Homo sapiens: one gene and its partners. The protein of the gene in region 1 purifies or fractionates together with the protein of each later gene. This does not show direct contact. Each region holds a gene or a part of one and is shown on either strand. Other genes may lie near its edges.

Region 1 (3,653 bases):
AGGTGCCTGTAATCTCAGCTACGTGGGAGGCTGAGGCAGGAGAATTGCTTGAACCCAGGAGGTGGAGGTTGCAGTGAGCCGAGATTGTGCCATTGCACTCCAGCCTGTGAGACAGAGCAAGACTCTGTCTCAAAAAATAAAAAAAAAATTTAAAAAAATTAAAAAAAAAAGACTTATATGGCTGAGCACGGTGGCTCATGCCTGTAATACCAGCACTTTGGGAGGCCGAGTCAGGTGGATCACCTGAGGTCGAGTTCGAGACCAGAGTGGCCAACATGGTGAAACCCCATCTCTACTAAAAATACAAAAATTAGCCAATTGTGGTGGCGGGCACCTGTAATCCCAGCTACTTGGGAGGCTGAGGCAGGAGAATCGCTTGAACCCAGGAGCCAGAGGTTGCAATGAGCAGAAATCATGCCACTGCACTGCAGCCTGGGCAACAGCACGAGACTCTGTCGAAAAAAAAAAAAAAAAGAAAGAAAGACATTTATATCATTTCCAAAGTAGTTCATTACTCTACAACTTAAAGGACTTACATGATGTTTGGGAAATGACTAACATCAGCTATTAATTAATAAATATGTATTAAATACATTTAGAACATAAAATACATAGATAAATTTAGATTTGGGTCTTTTGCATCATTTAAAGTAATCCACTGGAAAAAATTGGCAAGTGACATGTTTAATAACCTGGAACAAATCTTTCACTTTTGCTTTTTGAAATAAAATATTTCATCTCCAGTTACACCAGCAAAGATCACTATTCTAGAGTGTTTTAACTTCACCATTGTATTTCTGATCTCAGTATAAGAGAACAACTCCCTCACTTGCTATCATCAAAATGTTGCTCTTTGGGTGTGACCTTTGACAAATGGCCTTCTCCTTTCAGTGGCATCTTCTCGGTTCAGGTCTAGTCTGTACATACAGTCTTTAAATTCCTTAAATTTACTATTTTCCTTCACTTGGAAATTAACTGACAACACAGGAGTCTAGAGTCAGCTTCAAGATTACCAATGCTATACTTTGGAAAGTTGCAGCCTTTTCTTTTCAATAACTATGACCTTGAAGTCATCAGCCCATCTAGATTGTGTAACTTATTATGAACGGTTATATTTACTATTCCATTAGAGATAGTATCAGCCTTGGCTTTCAGATACTTTCATAGTTTATTTTAGGTTAGTGGTTGGTATTTTATGGGCTTTAGAGGATAAGCTATTCTTGCCTACTAAGGACAGAGACATAAGCATAGTACAATTCAGGGAAGTCAGAACTACTGCCTTGGCTGTACCAGCTGCCACCAAAACACCAGCAAAGAGGATCTGGAAAGGCCTGCCAATAGACCATCCCCAGGAAATGGGAAATTGGAGTCAGGAAAGCATTCCGAAGTTATAAGTAGGGCTCTTTTGTGCCACACTGGTATTTCCTGAAGATTTAGGCAAATTGAAGTTACTGCTGTGGGATTTCTAGGCCACACATATTCTAATGGTGAGGAAGATCAGGGTCACCCTTGAATGACTAACACTAGACCATTGATTCATACAGATTGGAGTGAGCCCATCAATGTTTCACATGCATTGTGGTGGCTCATTTACCTCTCTTCACTGCCTCATGGATGGGCGAGGCCAGGTGCACCTCCAACTGGGCCTTGGCTCCGAACTCCAGCAGCACATTGACACATGCAGCACTGCCGCTGCAGCAAGCATTGAAGAGGGGTGTGGCTCCGTGAACTGTCACTCCATTGACCTAATGATGGGCAAAGAGAGACCCAAAGGATTTGTTATTTCATTCTCACCATCTCCAAGTATGTCTTCCTATGTATTTGCCTAGAGGAATTCCCCACGCTGGTGAATAAGTGAGGGAACTCCACATCTTTACAGTATTATGAAACCTCATGAAGTTATTGGGTGGATCGAGCGAGTTACTATATGTAAACACTTAAAACATTACATGTCACCCAGTAAGCACTCAATAAGCATTTGCAACAACAATTATTTCCATTTTCCATTTTCCATTAATATGACTCCCCTCTGAATCATGAACAAACATGGCAGGCTGTGGTCCCAAAATCCATGCTTACAAAATCCTTGGCAATTCTCCACAGATCTACTGTCTTTCTTGCCACAACTTCCTCTCTGGTCTACTATAATCCATGCAAATTACACATGCCAGCTGTTACTTCTAGAGATAGCATGACCAAGCCAAAGGGACATAGAAAATAGCCATCAACATTTTCTTAATCCAGTCTATCATTGTTGGACATTTGGGTTGGTTTCACAGGAAGGGGAACATCACACACCGGGGACTGTTGTGGGGTGGGGGGAGGGGGGAGGGATAGCATTAGGATGTAAATGACGAGTTAATGGGTGCAGCACACCAACATGGCACATGTATACATATGTAACAAACCTGCACGTTGTGCACATGTACTCTAAAACTTAAAGTATAATAAAAAATAAAAATAAAAATAAATAAATAAAATTAAAAGATTAAATTTAAAAAAAGGAAAGAAAATAGCCATCAACATGGTGTCTGCAACCATCTTTGGTACCTTGTAGGGATGTGGGAAGCACATGAGAACCAGCAGGGCTGGGAGACATCTTTGTGTATCAGCAATAGATTGGAAAGAACATCGGGAACCGCAGGAGTGGTAGGGAGCCTCTGATGCCATTGAAATATAGGACAGTCAAGTTTGTGATGTGAAACAATTTTGCTTCAACAACTAAGGATGCATGCTTGTGATAATCAGGATTCTAAATGTCCTTGCTTTGGACACAAAAAAAGACTTGTTTCCAGAGTTGCAATATAACCCGTGAAACAGGGTCTTGCTCTGCTATCCAGGCTGGAGTGCAGTGTCATGATCATAGCTCACTGCAGCCTCGAATTCCTAGGCTCAAATGATCCTCCTGCCTCAGCCTCCTGAGCAGCTGGGACTACAGGCGTGCACCACCATGACCCACAAATTTAGAAAAATTATTTGTAGACAGCGTCTAGCTATCTTGCCCAGGCTGGTCTCAAACTCCTGGGTTCAAATGACCCTCCTGCCTCAGCCTGCCAAAGGGCAGGGATTACAGGTGTGAGCCACCACACCCAGCCTAACCCCCATTAAATTGGAAAGTTAAAGATAATATGCTAAGATGGCAGAGACAGACAAGGTCAGGGGAAAATGTGTGTAAATTTATATTGCTAGGGGTTTCTATATTTTTACTAAAAAATATTTGGTAGGACTAGTTTGATTTGTGTTTTACTAAGTTTCATCCTCACCCTCAGTCTAGGAAGTTGTCTTCTTATGCGATTTCCTATAAATTTCTCTTAGTTCACGTCAACAAACATTTATTGAGCATCTACTAGGTGCTAATGTTTTGGAAACAATGATAAGACAATTGCCTCTCCTTGAGTGGGCTGAACAATTGCCTCTCCTTGAGTAGGCTGAATTCCATTAGGGAAGACAAATACAAAAAGAATTTTTTTTAATTTTTTTATTTTTTAGATGGAGTCTTGCTCTGTTGCCAGGCTGGAGTGCAGTGGTGTGATCTCGGCTCACTGCAACCTCCGCCTCCTGGGTTCAAGAGATTCTGCTGCCTTAGGCTCCCAAGAAGCTGGGACTACAGGCGCGTGCCACCATGCCTAGCTAGTTTTTGTATTTTTAGTAGA
Region 2 (3,653 bases), on another chromosome or scaffold:
TTTACCCTGGCTGAATTTGAAGGTACCTGTGTCATTGTTGGGTAAAACAAACATGGGTTGTACCTCTCCTTCAGTGTTTGATATCGTGAGGAACTATACTGCAGATTATGACAAGACCTTAATCTTCAATAAAATCCACCATGAGCTGAACCAGTTCTGCAGTGCCCACACACTTCAGGAAGTTTACATTGAATTGTTTGGTAAGTGTCTTAATTCTTATGTATGTAAATAGCCAATTGGAAATCTTTGTTCAGCTTACTTATTGAGGTTATATTGGTAAACCTTAGTGCTATTTAAGCATTTCTTCTGAATTTATCATAGAGCAATTGTCTTTAAAATATTTTTTATCTTAAGTTTAAAATTTTTTATATAACTTGTTAGAGATTGGAAAAACTACTCAGACTGTATTCTGTTTTTACTGTAATAACTTAGTGAAAATTAGCTTTGTTGATGTTTTAATAGATAATTTGAAAAATTTAGAAACCTGTGTCTTGAGGCTCCCATTTTTGATGATTTGGTAGGAGACTGACAGGACTCAGCACATAGTTGTGTTCACAGCTAAGATTTATTACAGCCAAAGGGTACAAAGCAAAATCAGCGAGAGGCAAAGGCACACCAGCAAAATGCAGAGGAAAGCAGGTGCAGGCTTCCAAGAGTCAAACATGTGCCTAATTCCCACAGCAACAAGCTGTGACAACACATGTGAAATGTTGTCTACTAGGGAAGCTCATTGGAGACTCATTGCCCAGGGTTTTCACTGGGGGCTGATTATGTAGGCACCCTCTGCCTACCACATAAAAATTCCAGACTCCTGGAAGGAATGCAGGTGTTTGGCATAAGCCACATTGTATAAACAGTTCACAGCAAGTCAATTGTATTAGCTCTGGGGATAGTGGGACCCTTCTACAAATCCAAGTTCCTAGGTGCCAACCAAGGACGAGTTTACAAAAGGCCTTTCTAAGGATTGCAGTATCAGCCCTGCTTTCTTAACTCACTTCTGTACAACTTACTTTTCATTTATGATAGTGGAAGTTCTGACCAGGGAATGAGTTGTTGCTGTTGGTAGCTCACTTTTCCCTCCTGAAATTTTTAGTGAATTTCTAAGATGAAGGAATAAGCAAGAGTAATCAATTTAAAATCTACCAATTGAGTCCTCTTTGGTGATTGTCAACCACTGAAGTGGCATGTGAGGAAACTGATGGGTCCTGCTTTGTCTCACCACCAGTCATTTAAATAGCGAAAGTACCATTGAGGTGAATAGAAAGTGCATAGTTACAAGCCCAAGTGTTCATGCTGTGTATATTTCAAATACTTTTCTATGAGCTTCTCTCTCTGTCTCTCTCTCTCTCTCTCTTTAAATCCAAAATAACAGTGAGGCTGAGATCCATGGAAATGAAGTTTAGTTATTTGGGAATTTGAGTAAAGATTTACTGAACATAGAAATTTGTTTTTCTTTGAGAATGAGGATACATATTGAGTAAGAGCCCTGAATTAAGATACTAGAGATCCAGATTCTCCATTTATTAGATCAACATATTTTACCCAGTAGTTGTTTATCCAGTAAATAAGTCTAATAAGTTACCCAGTAAAAAAGCTTATCCATAGTTAAGTAATACATTTAGTGGGTAAACTTATTGGATAAACAGACTATCTGCTTGTCATCTTCGTTCCTTAATTTCTTTATTAGATAATTCCTTGCAATTTTTTTCCCACACAAAAGGGAAGAAAAGGCAGTTTAAGCTCTGTAAAAGAATAGTACTGTGGAAACTTTAGGTCTAATAATGATTAGTTTTGTTTCATTATGAATACAATGTAAAAAAAATTGACTATCATGAGATCTGTTGTTCTTGGCTTAAAAAACAGATCAAATAGATGAAAACCTGAAGCAAGCTCTGCAGAAAGACTTAAACCTCATGGCCCCAGGTCTCACTATACAGGTAAGTTCTTTTCCTAGGGAAGTTCTCTGGGGATTTTGAGAGCTTTGAGTTTGTTCCTCCTTTCATTGGATTGTTTTATTCAGCAATTATTTGAGATGCTATGGTGATTTATAGAATACCTTTCTCAATTTGACTTTAGATCTCTGCCAAAATAAAATACTCTTGTAGCTTACTATGGGTGACATTTGTGAACTCCTAGAGGGAACTGATAAGCTGAGGCTCTTACAAGGAAGTAAAATTCATATTTCTGCCATGTATGAAGCATTAAGATACAGTAATGGTTATAAATCAGTGTAAGCATAATCCCTGCCCTCAGTAAGATTATGAAAAGGGAGTTCAAGTGTAAAATTTGAACAATCCTGGACAAAATAGTTATCACAAAGTATTAATTGACAGATGAATCTATTGAATGATTATTGCTGTAAGAGTAAGAGAACATTGGAAGACAGTGTGTCTAGGAGAGGGCTGTGATTGAGTTGAGATTTTAAGTAGGTTTGGAAAAATTAATTGGATTTAAATGGGGGAAGAATGAGAAAGGTATTTCAAGTGGGAGGGACAGCCCTAGTAAAAACAAGGTAGCAGGTGAATTTAGTGGTAGTGGTGATGGTGACGTTGGGAAATAGAATGGTGAGAGGTTTTACCCCTGCTTTTTTTTGGGTCACTGTGTTTTCCAGATTGTGGGTTGTAAAATCAACTTTAGTGAGTCATGAACAGCATTTTAAATAAAATGGAATAGAATAGGAAAAGAAATGGTATGTAATAAGTTTAAATATTCTGTGACACTTGTGTTTCACAGTGTGGCGGGGTAGGTGTTTATATTGGACGTCAGTGCAAAATGTGTTTCTTACTGTGTCCACTGTCAGTAACATTCGAAAGCCACTGCTCTGGATCCAGATGACCTAAGAAGTTATATTGAGGCTTCTCTAGTGTCCTTTCTCAGGAGCTCTAGGAGACCAGTTGATTGTTGATTGTTGTGATGAACATTACTGCAACTAAAGCTTATCACATGTCTCTCAATTCTTTACACTCAGCACCACTGCTACTGAGAGTGTGCGCTCACTGTGATTGTATGTGTTCGTGCTTCTCAAAAACAAGACTGAAAGATAGGTGGGGTTTTCCTCATGGCCTCATTCATGCAATGTCATTATCTCAGGCGCTTGAGGGTGAGCCACCAGAGTTAAGGGGTCGTTTGAAATGTCCAGAGGTAACTTTGTAAAATCCTCTGAGTTGTTCAAGTCAGTTGTAGCTGGAGTAGCTTTTTAGTTTTAAAGATAGTGAATGTGAAGGTCAGCTCTTAGATTCTGCCCAGGGTGTTACTCAGAGATCTAGCTCATTCAACTGTTGTTTAGAATTCCTTGCCTTATATTACTTAGCCATTTTTCTGTTCCCAGTTTTTTGCTATTAAACAATAGTGTAATGAACATTCATGACACATGTTCTTGTATGTACAAATTATCTTTCAAACTGACTGTACAAATGTACATTCTTAACAGCAATATGTGCAAATAATTGTGACCCATGAACTCACCAACATTGGAAGCAATCAGACATACTGATTGTTACCATATGGATGGGTGGGCAATTATATCTCCCTTTGATTTGCATTCCTTTGGTTGTTAATGAGGTTGAACATCTTTTGATACATTTATTGGTCATTTATACTGTCTTCTGCTGATTGCCTATTCATATCTTTTGCCCATTTTTCTGTTGGATTGT
Region 3 (3,653 bases), on another chromosome or scaffold:
TCTGTTCTAGACACTGGGGATACAAGCAAACAAAAATCCCTGCTTTTGTGGAACTGATATTCTACTGGAGGCAGTTGGCAGTAGGGCACTAGTACTCTAGTGGTAGAGGGTACCCAAACAGCAGCTGGAGGATGACTGGGAGGCAGGGAGGCTGAACTGGGAGGTGCAACTAAGAGCCTGTCTCTGGTCAGTCAGCTGACGAAAGAATGAGACAATCCAGTGTTCTGTTCCCCATAGTCTGTTACCCATCAGTCTGGTAAACACAGACGTCTCTCTTAAAATGTCTCAAGATAATAAGCTAACAAAGAGTGATTGTCCTCAGAACGAAGCAGAGGCCAGGAGCTGTGGCTCAGGCCTGTAATTGGGAGGTTGAGGTGGAAGAATATCTTGAGCCCAGGAGTTCAAGACCAGCCTAGGTAACATAGCAAGACCCCATCTCTTAAAAATAAAATGAGCTGGGCATGGTGGTGCCTGTCTGTAGTCTCAGCTACTTGGGAGGATCGCTTGAGTTCCAGAAATCCAGGCTGCAGTGAGCTATGATGGTGCCACTGCACTCCACTCCAGCCTGGGCAACAAAGTGAGATCCATCTCTTAAAAAAAAAAAAAAAAAGCGGGGGGTGGGGTGGGCACTGTGGACTGAAAACAAAAGGTTTGTGTAAGAAGCAAACTGACATTACTCCCAACGCTCCTGCTCTTATCTTCCTACTCTCTTACTAAACCACGAGGTCAAGTTCATCCTTAAGCCACAGGAACAGTAAAAGAATGAAAAAAACTAATGTGGCTGGTTTTTGACCTCCCCATTCCCCCATTCTCCATCTATACCCAAAGCCTTAGACTCTAAGGAGTAGTGTTAGAAAGGGTGTGTTCTGTAATCCTGTCCTCGCAAGCCAAAGTCTACTCTCCCCTTCTGCCCAAAGCTTCCTAGTTGCTTTCTATGGTCCTCCTGAATTCTTAGGGGAGGCTTTTTCTCACAGATTACAAAGACTCGAGCACTATTAAGGGAGCAGGCAGTATGGCAATTACAGGTGGCACAAGAACAGAGCAGGTATAAAGTCTAGGGCAGGGATGGGCGTGGTGGCTCATGCCTGTAATCCCAGCACTTTGGGAGGCCGAGGCAGGCGGATCACCTGAGGTCAGGAGTTCAAGACCAGCCTGGCCAACATGGTGAAACCCTGTCTCTACTAAAAATACAAAAAACTAGCCGGGCATGGTGGTGGGCAACTGTAATCCCAGCTACTCGGGAGGCTAAGGCAAGAGAATTGCTTGAACCCAGAGGCGGAGGTTGCAGTGAGCTGAAATCGTGCCACTGCACTCCAGCCTGGGCAACAAAAGCGAAACTCCGTCTCAAATAAAAAAATAAAGTCTAGAGCAGAAGTTCTTCAAGTACAGCCTCAGTTACCACCTGTAGGAAAATCACCTGGGACTGCCAGTTAAAGCAGAGCTTCCCAGTTTGTACCTCAGAACAGTGGACTCAGAATTGAGGGTTGGGGCAGAGATGGCAATCTGTTTAACAGGTTTCCCAGGTGATACTTACACACACTAAAATTTGAGAACCACTGGTTTGGATAAACCAGAAAGAATTAAATTATAAAACTGACATTGAGGAGGTAATCTGTGAGAGAAAAGTGAGCTTGCTATCCACACCAAACTCTATCCCTGGTAGCAACTTCACATCTGGTTAGTGGGTATGTATTACACCTTCTGGCAAAAATCTGAAAAAATATAACTGAGGAACAGGAACAACACTGGCAAACAGAGAGACAAACATTCCTTTCAGGATCCTATGGGAACTACTCACCTCCTCCAGACATTTCCTAAGGAGTTCCACTGCCCTCTCACGTGAGATAGCTGAAAGAGAACACAGAGACCAAATACTTCCGGTGCTGTCATTATATCCAACTCTCAGAAGCTTTTGATTAAGTTCCAAATCTGGCTTCTTCAGGTCTCAGTGCCACACAAACGTAAAAGGCAAAAAATGCTTTGCCTTCTAGCCTGCAATCAACTTACTCCACATGCAGCTGGGGGGGCCCCAGACCCAGTGCTCCAGCAGCTATAAGCCATTGCAAATTGATTTGCTACAGTAAAGGGTGAGCATGAAGGAATTCTGCCTCCCCTGGCCAGGGCCCACCTCTGAAGAAGTCCAGCAGCCTGTCTCTCTTTATCATAACCCACCCCTTTCACTCCCCCTTAGTCCAGGGTTTGAATCAATTCCATCTGCCCCAGTCAGCTGCAAATCAGGGAAAGAGACGATGGGGTCAGAATTTCAGCCTTGTTTTCCCAGCTGGGTCTCTGTTTAACAATGGGAAGAGAATTCATAGGATGGGGCTGAGACTCTCCCCAAATAGGAGCCAAAGGAACTGTCTGTGGGCGTGGCAAACTGGGACGACATGTTATGCACTCAGGCTTCAGGGGTGGCTAGTAGTTATTTTGGTGGGCAAATCAGCTGTATTACTGACAGATGCCAAATCAAGAAAGTCACTGGGAGGCCAGGCTAATTCTTTTCAGGATGTGGCCTGGAGCTCTAGCGTGGCTAAGGTTGAGCGAGAGGGCAGCACCAAAAAAGAATGAACATGCCAGATTCTTACGATACTGACAGTGAAGAATGGAATGTAAGGAGAGAAGTGGTTATCTGTGCTTCATCTATAGTCTGTAAAAGCTAAGAATTCCAAAGTACCCACTGCCCACAGAGGCTAAAGTCGAGGTTAGGACTGGGGTCAGAAGATGGAACTTAGCACAAAAGCATCCCTGTGTCTAGGAAGTCCTAACCAGAGCACTTAGGCAAGGGGAGGAAATAGAGTACCCCAATTGGAAAGCAGGAAGTCAAATGTCCCTATTTGCAGATGACATGATCTTCTATATAGAAAAACCTAAAGACCCCACCAGAAAACTCTCACATCTGATAAATGAATTCCATAAAGTTGCAGGATACAAAATTAATATACAAAAATCAGTATTTCTATACACAAACTAGCTGAAAAAGAAATCAAGAAGGCAATCCCATTTACAATAGACACAAAAATCAAAGAAAATAAAATACCTAGGAATAAATTTAACCAAGGAGATGAAAGACCTCTATAACGAAAACTATAAAACACTGATGAAATAAGCTGAAGAGGATACAAGCGAATGGAAATACATCTCATGCTCATGGATCAGAAGAATTAATATTATGAAGATGACAACACTACCCAAAGAAATTTATATATTCAATGCAATCCCTATCAAAATGCCAATGACATGCCTCACAGAATTATGGAAAAAAATCCTAAGATTTGTAAGGAACCACAAAAGACTCTGAATAGCTAAAGCAATCCTGAACAAAAAGAACAAATCTGGTAGTTGATACCACTACCAGACTTCAAAATATATCACAAAGTTGTAGTAACCAAAACAGTATGCTACTGGCATAAAAATAGACACATAGACCAATTAAACAGAATAGAGAAATTAAGAAATTAAGCCACATATCTACATTTGACTTTTGATGAAGGTACCAAGAACACTCATTGGGGAAAGGACAGTCTGTCTCTTCAATAAATGGTGCTAGAAAAACTGGATATCCATACACAGAAGAATGAAACCAGACCCTCACCTCTTACCCTATACAAAATTCAACTCAAAATGGATCAAAGACCTCAATTTAAGACCAGAAA

The links.
Region 2: the proteins of ASB11 (region 1) and ERLIN1 purify together in Homo sapiens (affinity purification with mass spectrometry, with the first as the bait; one large-scale study listed by BioGRID). This does not show direct contact.
Region 3: the proteins of ASB11 (region 1) and PSMB2 purify together in Homo sapiens (affinity purification with mass spectrometry, with the first as the bait; one large-scale study listed by BioGRID). This does not show direct contact.

What each region holds. Positions count from the first base shown.
Region 1 is NC_000023.11:15,291,576-15,295,228, forward strand, and holds part of ASB11 (ankyrin repeat and SOCS box protein 11), read right to left. Parts: intron 1,746-3,653; coding exon 1,595-1,745; intron 1-1,594. UniProt on the Homo sapiens protein: Substrate-recognition component of a cullin-5-RING E3 ubiquitin-protein ligase complex (ECS complex, also named CRL5 complex), which mediates the ubiquitination and subsequent proteasomal degradation of target proteins, such as BIK, DIRAS2 and RPN1.
Region 2 is NC_000010.11:100,172,492-100,176,144, reverse strand, and holds part of ERLIN1 (erlin-1), read left to right. Parts: intron 1-74; coding exon 75-200; intron 201-1,863; coding exon 1,864-1,937; intron 1,938-3,653. UniProt on the Homo sapiens protein: Component of the ERLIN1/ERLIN2 complex which mediates the endoplasmic reticulum-associated degradation (ERAD) of inositol 1,4,5-trisphosphate receptors (IP3Rs).
Region 3 is NC_000001.11:35,603,435-35,607,087, forward strand, and holds part of PSMB2 (proteasome subunit beta type-2), read right to left. Parts: intron 1,849-3,653; coding exon 1,799-1,848; intron 1-1,798. UniProt on the Homo sapiens protein: Non-catalytic component of the 20S core proteasome complex involved in the proteolytic degradation of most intracellular proteins. This complex plays numerous essential roles within the cell by associating with different regulatory particles.